2 linked regions of the Homo sapiens genome follow. The protein of the gene in region 2 purifies or fractionates together with the protein of the main gene of each other region. This does not show direct contact. Each region holds a gene or a part of one and is shown on either strand. Other genes may lie near its edges. The genes, in order: EGLN1 and FAM98B.

Region 1 (3,828 bases), on a different chromosome or scaffold from region 2:
TAATGATTTTGTCTTTTTATTTTAAAAGCCATTTGAGTTTCTTCAACAGAGTGTTCAGTGTCTCTGAAAGCACACTGAGCTTGTGCCACAAATAATGGCTTTAAAAATACATAGAAAATGCATGAATATTCCATTTTTATGTAAGGTCGACGTGCGATTAGCAATGGCTCTGGAAAACACAGCTAATCAGTAATGTGAATACTCAGTGGATTTTTGGAGATAGAAAGTAGAGTTAAAGAAAAGAAGGTAAGTGGTCCATCAGATGGGAAACAGACCCCCTGCTCTTGGAGAGGCAGTCCATAAGTGGAAGAGAAGGGGAACTGGCATAATTAAAGGATCTTCAGGTTCAGTACAAGAGTGCTGACCTATGTACACCATTAGCAGATATGGAATCTACATGTCTGTGTCATTTACTGATTTTGGCATTTGAATTCATAATTCTTTGTATTAATTTTCTTCATGTCTACATTTAACATGGAAGACCTAGAGTACTGTTTAGAGCACATCCATTTGAAAAGGAAAGGGTATTAATTTAAGGAGTGAATGAGAGGAAACCATATGGCCGTTACCTAGAGTTAAGTGGCCTTTGACTGAAAAGGATAATCACAGAAAACTCAGTTTGTATGTGAATAATTTACTCAGACTTCTTTGCCTCAAATTTTCCACATCCTTTGACAATTTTTTTGGTTAAAGATAACAGTGAAGATGACTTATGTCTTCTTAAAAAATGAGGCAAATAAGAAATCTGATAAAAAACAAAAAGTAAGTATTCATGGTGTTAACAAAGACTATGCTTGAGTTTCCTGAAAGCATCACCTGATTGCAGGGTATTTCTGTACCAATATATCCTGGCCCCAAATGACGTTTACCTGTTAGATATTTTACTTTAGCTCGTGCTCTCTCATCTGCATCAAAATACCAAACAGTTATTGCGTACCTAAAAGAAAATTTAGAATAGGATAAGAATGATCACACTGCGGGGAAAAAGTGGTATTTTGCTGCAATGGTATATTAAAACTTGTAATGCCAAAATTATGCCTAAACTGGAATGATATCAAAGGATAAATTTAACAGCTTATTTATACAGTAACCAGGGGAGACTAAAATTGATGTCTGAAGTTGATGAGTTTTTGTGACTTTCTTAATACTTATTTCAACTACTTATTTTTTGCAAGGGAACTGCAGATCAGAAAGAGACAATAGGCCGGGCACAGTGGCTCACGCCTGTAATCCCAGCACTTCGGGAGGCCGAAGTGGGTGGATCATGAAGTCAGGACTTCGAGACCAACCTGGCCAATAGGGTGAAACCCCATCTCTACTAAAAAAAAGAAAAAAAAAATTAGCCGTGCATGGTGGCACATGCCTGTAGCCCTAGCTACTCAGGAGGCTGAGAGGCAGGAGAATCGCTTGAACCCGGGGAGGCGGAGGTTGCAGTGAGCCGAGATCATGCCACTGCACTCCAGCCTAGGTGACAGAGTGAGCCTCCCTCTAAAAAAAAAGAGAGACAATAAAAGGGTAAAAGAATGGCTGTTACAGAAAAAGCACATTATCAATAGCACAAGTACTAAAAGAACAGAAAAGAAACAGATAAAAGGACTCAGGGCATTGCAGGCTAACAGTTTCAACAGTCTCTGGGGACATCACTACATTATAGCAAAGAGTAATGATGGATGTTTACAATTATAACCTTGACAGTTAAATTATGCTAAGAATTTTTAAGGATTTTAATCAAAGCAATTATACTGTGTTTTGTGTTTAAACTTTGTCTAAACTTCATTTTTCTGAAAATCTGACTTAGAATATTTCATTCCACCAATAAGTGAGGCATCTCTAGTTTATTAAATACTACAAAAGACATACTTTCTGATACAAATAATGGGGAAAATGTATAAACGCTATAGGAAGTGAAAGTACGCTACAAATCACCAGTTCCTGGGCAGAATATAGCAATTAGTTCAAATATATTGTGGATTGTGGCCAGTGGACACAGGGGAAAAGGCAACATTTATCAGACATACAGCCAGTAATATGACAGAATGAAAAATCACATAATGTATTTTGAAGTAAAGAGTCTGGGAGTTTGGACAACTGGGAGCCTGACGTTTACAGACCCCACCACTGGTGAATCACAGAGCTGAGGTCTAAGGAGGTCTCCTGACTTCCAGACCAGACTCTGCTCTTTCCAGAGTTCCACTACCTTTCTTACCATGTGGCTTCTTCTACTTTTGGGTGGCCTTGGAAATAGGAAAGGGCTCAGATACATAATTTTATGTATCTTTTGCCCATGCCCTAAACTTTTAGTCACTTAGCAATCAGAATTCTAATATCTGGATCAACAACTTACCTTATGTCATTCTAACTTTCCAGCCTTATCACCCATTCTAGATAAGATCAGAATAGGATTCTACTTCAAGAATCCTTTTCGTCGCATGATTTTCCATGCCTTAACTTGAACAACTACGCCTTTTCCCCCAGAACTTTACTAACACGACTGCACCCCTTGCCTCTCCTCACCTAGGCCAGCTGAGCCTCTCCCTTCAAAGCGCACTTGCCCGTCTCTCCAATGTAGCACCACCTTCGTTCCTCAACTCCTGTAGCACTTAGCCTCCATGCCATCTGGCATTTATTTACTATAAACTCCCAAGTATCTGTTATTTATTCATCTAAAAAGGACGTAACCAAACCAAACTCAGGATTTCATAAAAAGGAAGGTCTATGAGGCAGTTACTGTGTCAGAAAATCTTTACAGAAGCAGCAGGGGGCAGAGACAGCACTGGGATGCCACTGGGAAGAGACATGGGATTGAAAAGGGCACATCATGTGATGTGACAGTCTTTCTTTGGTTTCCATTCAGGATTTCTTACAATCTCCAGCTACAACCTGCTTAGCTTGCTACTCAGTACGTGAATTAGGATGCAGGCAACACACCTCAGAAGGCAGGAAGAAAAAAGGCACAGCTGATAATCAAGTCGTTAGAGTCAACCATCATTACTAAAGCCAACTCTCCACCCAGCGCATCTAAGCCTGTGCCTCTTCTTGCCACCCTAGCATCTCCTAAGCCAGATACAGCAAATGAATGCCGGAAGCTCACTATCAGAATGTTCCAAGACCTTTCCATAATAAAAAATAAGTATTTTTTTTTAATGTGCTATTTTTCTACAAATATTTACTTTCATGATAATGTCTACAATATCTTGTTTTCACAGCCAGAGCATTTTAATTGAGTCAGGATAAATGGTTTTTAAAAAAGCATTTGAAATAAAGCACTAAATATAATAGGTTGCAAATACCTTGTAGAAAAAGTATAATGAAACAGATGCTCATTATTTGTAAAGCTAATAGGATCATTTTTCTAACATTAACTCCCACACATGGTAACCTGTTCTCTACTTTTCTTTCTTCTGTTTTTCTCTTCACTTCTACTCTCTGGTTACCTCTGATTTTTCTACTCTGTATCCATTTTCCTATGTTGTCCCTCACCACCTTTTAAAAAACCCTTTTCCTTCTTGATCTTTCTCTCTCCCAAGTAAAATACTCTTACAAAAATCAAAGCATGGATAGTAGTTAAGAGATGCACAAAGCACGGAGAGAGTGCTAGAAAGATGGGAAGGCCTGTGCTTCCCTTTCTTCAGAGTGGCTGTGCAAAGAAAGACACATTTAGTACTAACTGTTAATGAGTCTTATATAATTATTTGAATTCAGATGACTGTGCAACATAAATCTTATACAATTATTCAAATTAAAATGACTGTGAAAAGTACCTGGCAGGAAAATACTCATTAGAAAGCTTTCACGTTTACTCTACAGATTCCCTCCTGTCCTACCATA
Region 2 (3,828 bases):
TTTGGAATATGTGATTTTTCTTTGTACAGTGGGCACATTATTGATAAAACTATAAACCGTAAGTTATCAGTTTACTATTAAACAGAAAAGTAAATACAACATAATGGCAATACCAGCAGACGTGATACTTTCTTCCAAGTTGCATAATGATTTTATTTGAGAGCCTAACCAAATACAGAGCTCTGAAAATTCAGGTGAAGATAATCCACCCTCTGCCGCCTTTGTAAGGGCTTGCTCTTCTAACAATGGTCCTTTATACCTAGAAAGGAAGAAATACAAGTTAAAAACTAAATAAGCCAATCAAACAAAAAAACCTCCAACACTCTGTGTCAAGGTCTGCTGCTTGTTTTTGTAAATAAAATGTTATTGGAACACAGCCATTAAATGTATTAATCTACAAATTGGCTACGGCTGTTTCCACACTACAATGGAAGAGCTAAGTATTTGTAACCGAAAATGATGACTACATGGCCTTCTAAAGAAATGGTTTGCTGATTCCTGCTCTATATAATTAACATTTGGCTTTTTTCCTATGTTTTAACATTTTACAGTAAAATTATCTACCAATTTTCAGATAAATACCACAGGTATCACAAAGTCAAATACAGCATAAAGTCTAATAGCCTTATATTAATTACAATAAAAATATGGTGAAAAAAGCACAGACACAAATTACAAATTTAAAAAAGCTAAAGTTGAAAAGAATCTATTAGATCATTTTAATCTAAACCTATTTTATTTATTTTACTTTACTATTTTATTTTATTTTATTTTATTTTATTTTATTTTATTTTATTTTTGAGGCAGGGTCTCACTCTGTCACCCTGGCAGGAGTATAGTGACACAATCTTGGCTCACTGCAACCTCCACCTCCTGGGTTCAAGGGATTCTCATGCCTCAGCCACCAGAGTAGCTAGGATTACAGGTGCCTGCCACCACACCCAGCTAATGTTTGTATTTTTAGTAGAAAGGGGGTTTAGCCATGTTGGCCAGGCTGGTCTCCTGAGCTCAAGCAATCCACCCACCTCGGCCTCCCAAAGTACTGGGATTACAGGTGTGAGCCACCGTGCCTGGCCTCATTTATTTATAATTTTACACTTCTAAACATTTCTGCAAATTGTATTTCACAAGAATCTTAAATTTTCAAAACACTTTATATACTATCTTAACTGAATTAGATGATCAGTTTTCTACTTTTATGGTTCTTTTTGCAACTGAACTTTTGTTAACATTATAAAGTCACAGATAATATACTTGATGTGTTTTAATCCATCACAGTTATTCTTTTGATACTCAAATTCTTCTGTCTCTGGTTTATAGTAGCCCATTCAGGTAGGCCAGTCGAGCCCTTTGTCTTGTCCTCCGTACTCTCTGAATACTTTCCTTGCTTTCTACAACAACATCTTCCTGCCTTAGACTTGGAATCAGGCATTTCTCCAAGGAGCCCCGATTCTTTTAATGGTATTTAGAGTACATAATCTGCTACCAAAGGTTGGTCACTGTTTCTATGCCTTTTTCAGAGAAACTATATCAGTTTCATATTGCTATTTCCAACTGGAATTTAGAATTGTAGGGGTTTTACTTATTTTGTTTTACATTTTTATTTATCTTCTCTTACAATGACAATTCTTGTTTTAATAACATTTACAAATTCCTAATATATATTAAAATAGGTATAAATTACTTATGGCTTCAGAATAGGAAATCCAGCATTACTACTAACAATAAAATTACAGTTTAATTTTTTTATATTTACGACGTATTCCTGTAAGGATATACAGAAAAACAATTCCCATGTGATTAAACCACCTACTCAATATATCAATAGACATTTGTTTTGTTCAGCTTTAATTTGTAGGGATTTGTTTCTTTTTATTTCATTTTTGTCTTATAATTATGTAAAACATTAATGCAGTTTCAAAGTCTAACTTAAAAAACAAAATGCATCAGAAAAATCTAGTTTGCAATTTTAATCTTGTATCCTCTACTCTGTTCTCTCCCTCCCCTACAGGTGACCATATTTATTAGTTTGGGGTTGTCCTTCCATCATGTTTTTCAGTATAAATATATGCATTTTTGTCTCCTTTTCCAGATAAAAGGTAGCCTACTATGTACTGTTCTAGTCCTTGCTTTAAACACATACATGCTCACACACACATACATTTACATAGAGTAGAGATCAATATTTAGACATAGTATTCAACCATTTTTACAGTTATATACTACCTCACTGTCTGGATGCACCATATTTTATTTAATCGGCATCTACTAAAGGACACTTGGATTGTTTCCAGTGTTTTGTTAATATAGTTTGGCAAATTTTTGTCAGTTTTTATCTAGGATAGATTCCTAGAGGTGAGACTGTTGGGTCAAAGGGTAAATAGATACATAACTTTGCCAGATACTATTAAATTCTCCTGTAGAGGGGTTGTACCATCAAGGTATCCGAGTACCCATTCCCTCATAATTCATCAAAGTTGTCAAACTTTTGGATTTTTGACCATCTGGTAACTCAGTATAGTTTTATCTACATTTCTCTTACAAGCAAGACGTAGGGTATCTTTGCATATGTTTAAAGGCCACTTGCATTTCTTTTTCTTTGAATTCTCTGGTTATATCAGATGAAGGGTAAGTACAAGTATTTTCAAATCCTCATTTTGTAGGTAAAGAAACTAAGACTTCATGACATTAGGAAACCTGCCTTTATGTAGCAGGCCAGGCACAGTGCTAGGCATATATATATATATATATTTCATTTAATCTTTACAGCAATGCTTTAAGTTAGCATTATCCTAATTCTGTAGAATCAGAAAATGGCACTAGGATTTAAATCCACGTTTAACCCAAATGCTCCATCATTAACATAGGTCTTGTTAGACCTCTGTCTACAACTATAAGGAAACTAAGGAAATAATCTGGTCCAGTTGATACAGCCAAGTAAAGGCAGAGCTGAGACTAGAATATTATTTCTGCACCCCCCAGCTCAAGGCTGGTTCTTCTATGACTCAGCCTTCCTCTATGTCTTACAATGCCTCTCAATGAGATTTCATAGTAAACATCTTATATCCTCTTATTTGCTTTCATTTCTGCAATAAAGCAATACTCATAAACTCTTGAAGAAATTTAATTCATATTGATGTAAGTTTTTTTAACTGAAATGTCAATAATAAAAACCAACAAGAACTGATCAAATCACAAAAAATTCTGAATTTGGAAAAAAAAATCCAATCTTTAATGCCTTAGCTCATCAGATGAAGTAAAAATAAAAAGAGGAACAAATAAATGCATTTAACATACCTGACCATCTAGTAACAATCAAAATCGCAATAGTGGCTAACATTTAGAAAGTGCTAACTGTATGTTGGGTCAGTGCTAAACAATTTATATAAATTGTCTCATTTAGTTGCCACAATACCCTATAAGGTAGATACTATTATTAGCTTCATTTTACAGATGAGGAAGCTCAGGATGATAAAGGTAAATAATTCATCCGGGATGGCCATAATCATAGCTAACAACTGTCCCGGAACTGAGCCACACAACCTACCTCCATAGCCCCACACTCTTAGCCTGTATTGTTCTGTCACCATCCAGAAATGTATCTAATTGTCTTAGGCAATAGAAGTGTCTAAGTATATTCTGCTAGATAACCGAATAAGAATATGAAAGCACTTTTCTGGCTAGAACAGTACTTCTTAAACTTTTATGTGCATATGAATCTCCTGAGGGTCTTGTTAAAATAAAGATTCTAATTCAGTAGAGCTGGAATGATGTCTGGGATTCTGCATTTCTACTCCCCAGGTGATGATGACGCTGCTAGTCCACAGA

Evidence for each region.
Region 1: the proteins of FAM98B (region 2) and EGLN1 fractionate together in Homo sapiens (co-fractionation; one large-scale study listed by BioGRID). This does not show direct contact.

The regions. Positions count from the first base shown.
Region 1 is NC_000001.11:231,366,700-231,370,527, forward strand, and holds part of EGLN1 (egl nine homolog 1), read right to left. Parts: intron 3,145-3,828; exon of another isoform or gene 2,855-3,144; intron 938-2,854; coding exon 870-937; exon of another isoform or gene 868-869; intron 1-867. UniProt on the Homo sapiens protein: Cellular oxygen sensor that catalyzes, under normoxic conditions, the post-translational formation of 4-hydroxyproline in hypoxia-inducible factor (HIF) alpha proteins.
Region 2 is NC_000015.10:38,460,463-38,464,290, reverse strand, and holds part of FAM98B (protein FAM98B), read right to left. Parts: intron 260-3,828; coding exon 114-259; intron 1-113. UniProt on the Homo sapiens protein: Positively stimulates PRMT1-induced protein arginine dimethylated arginine methylation.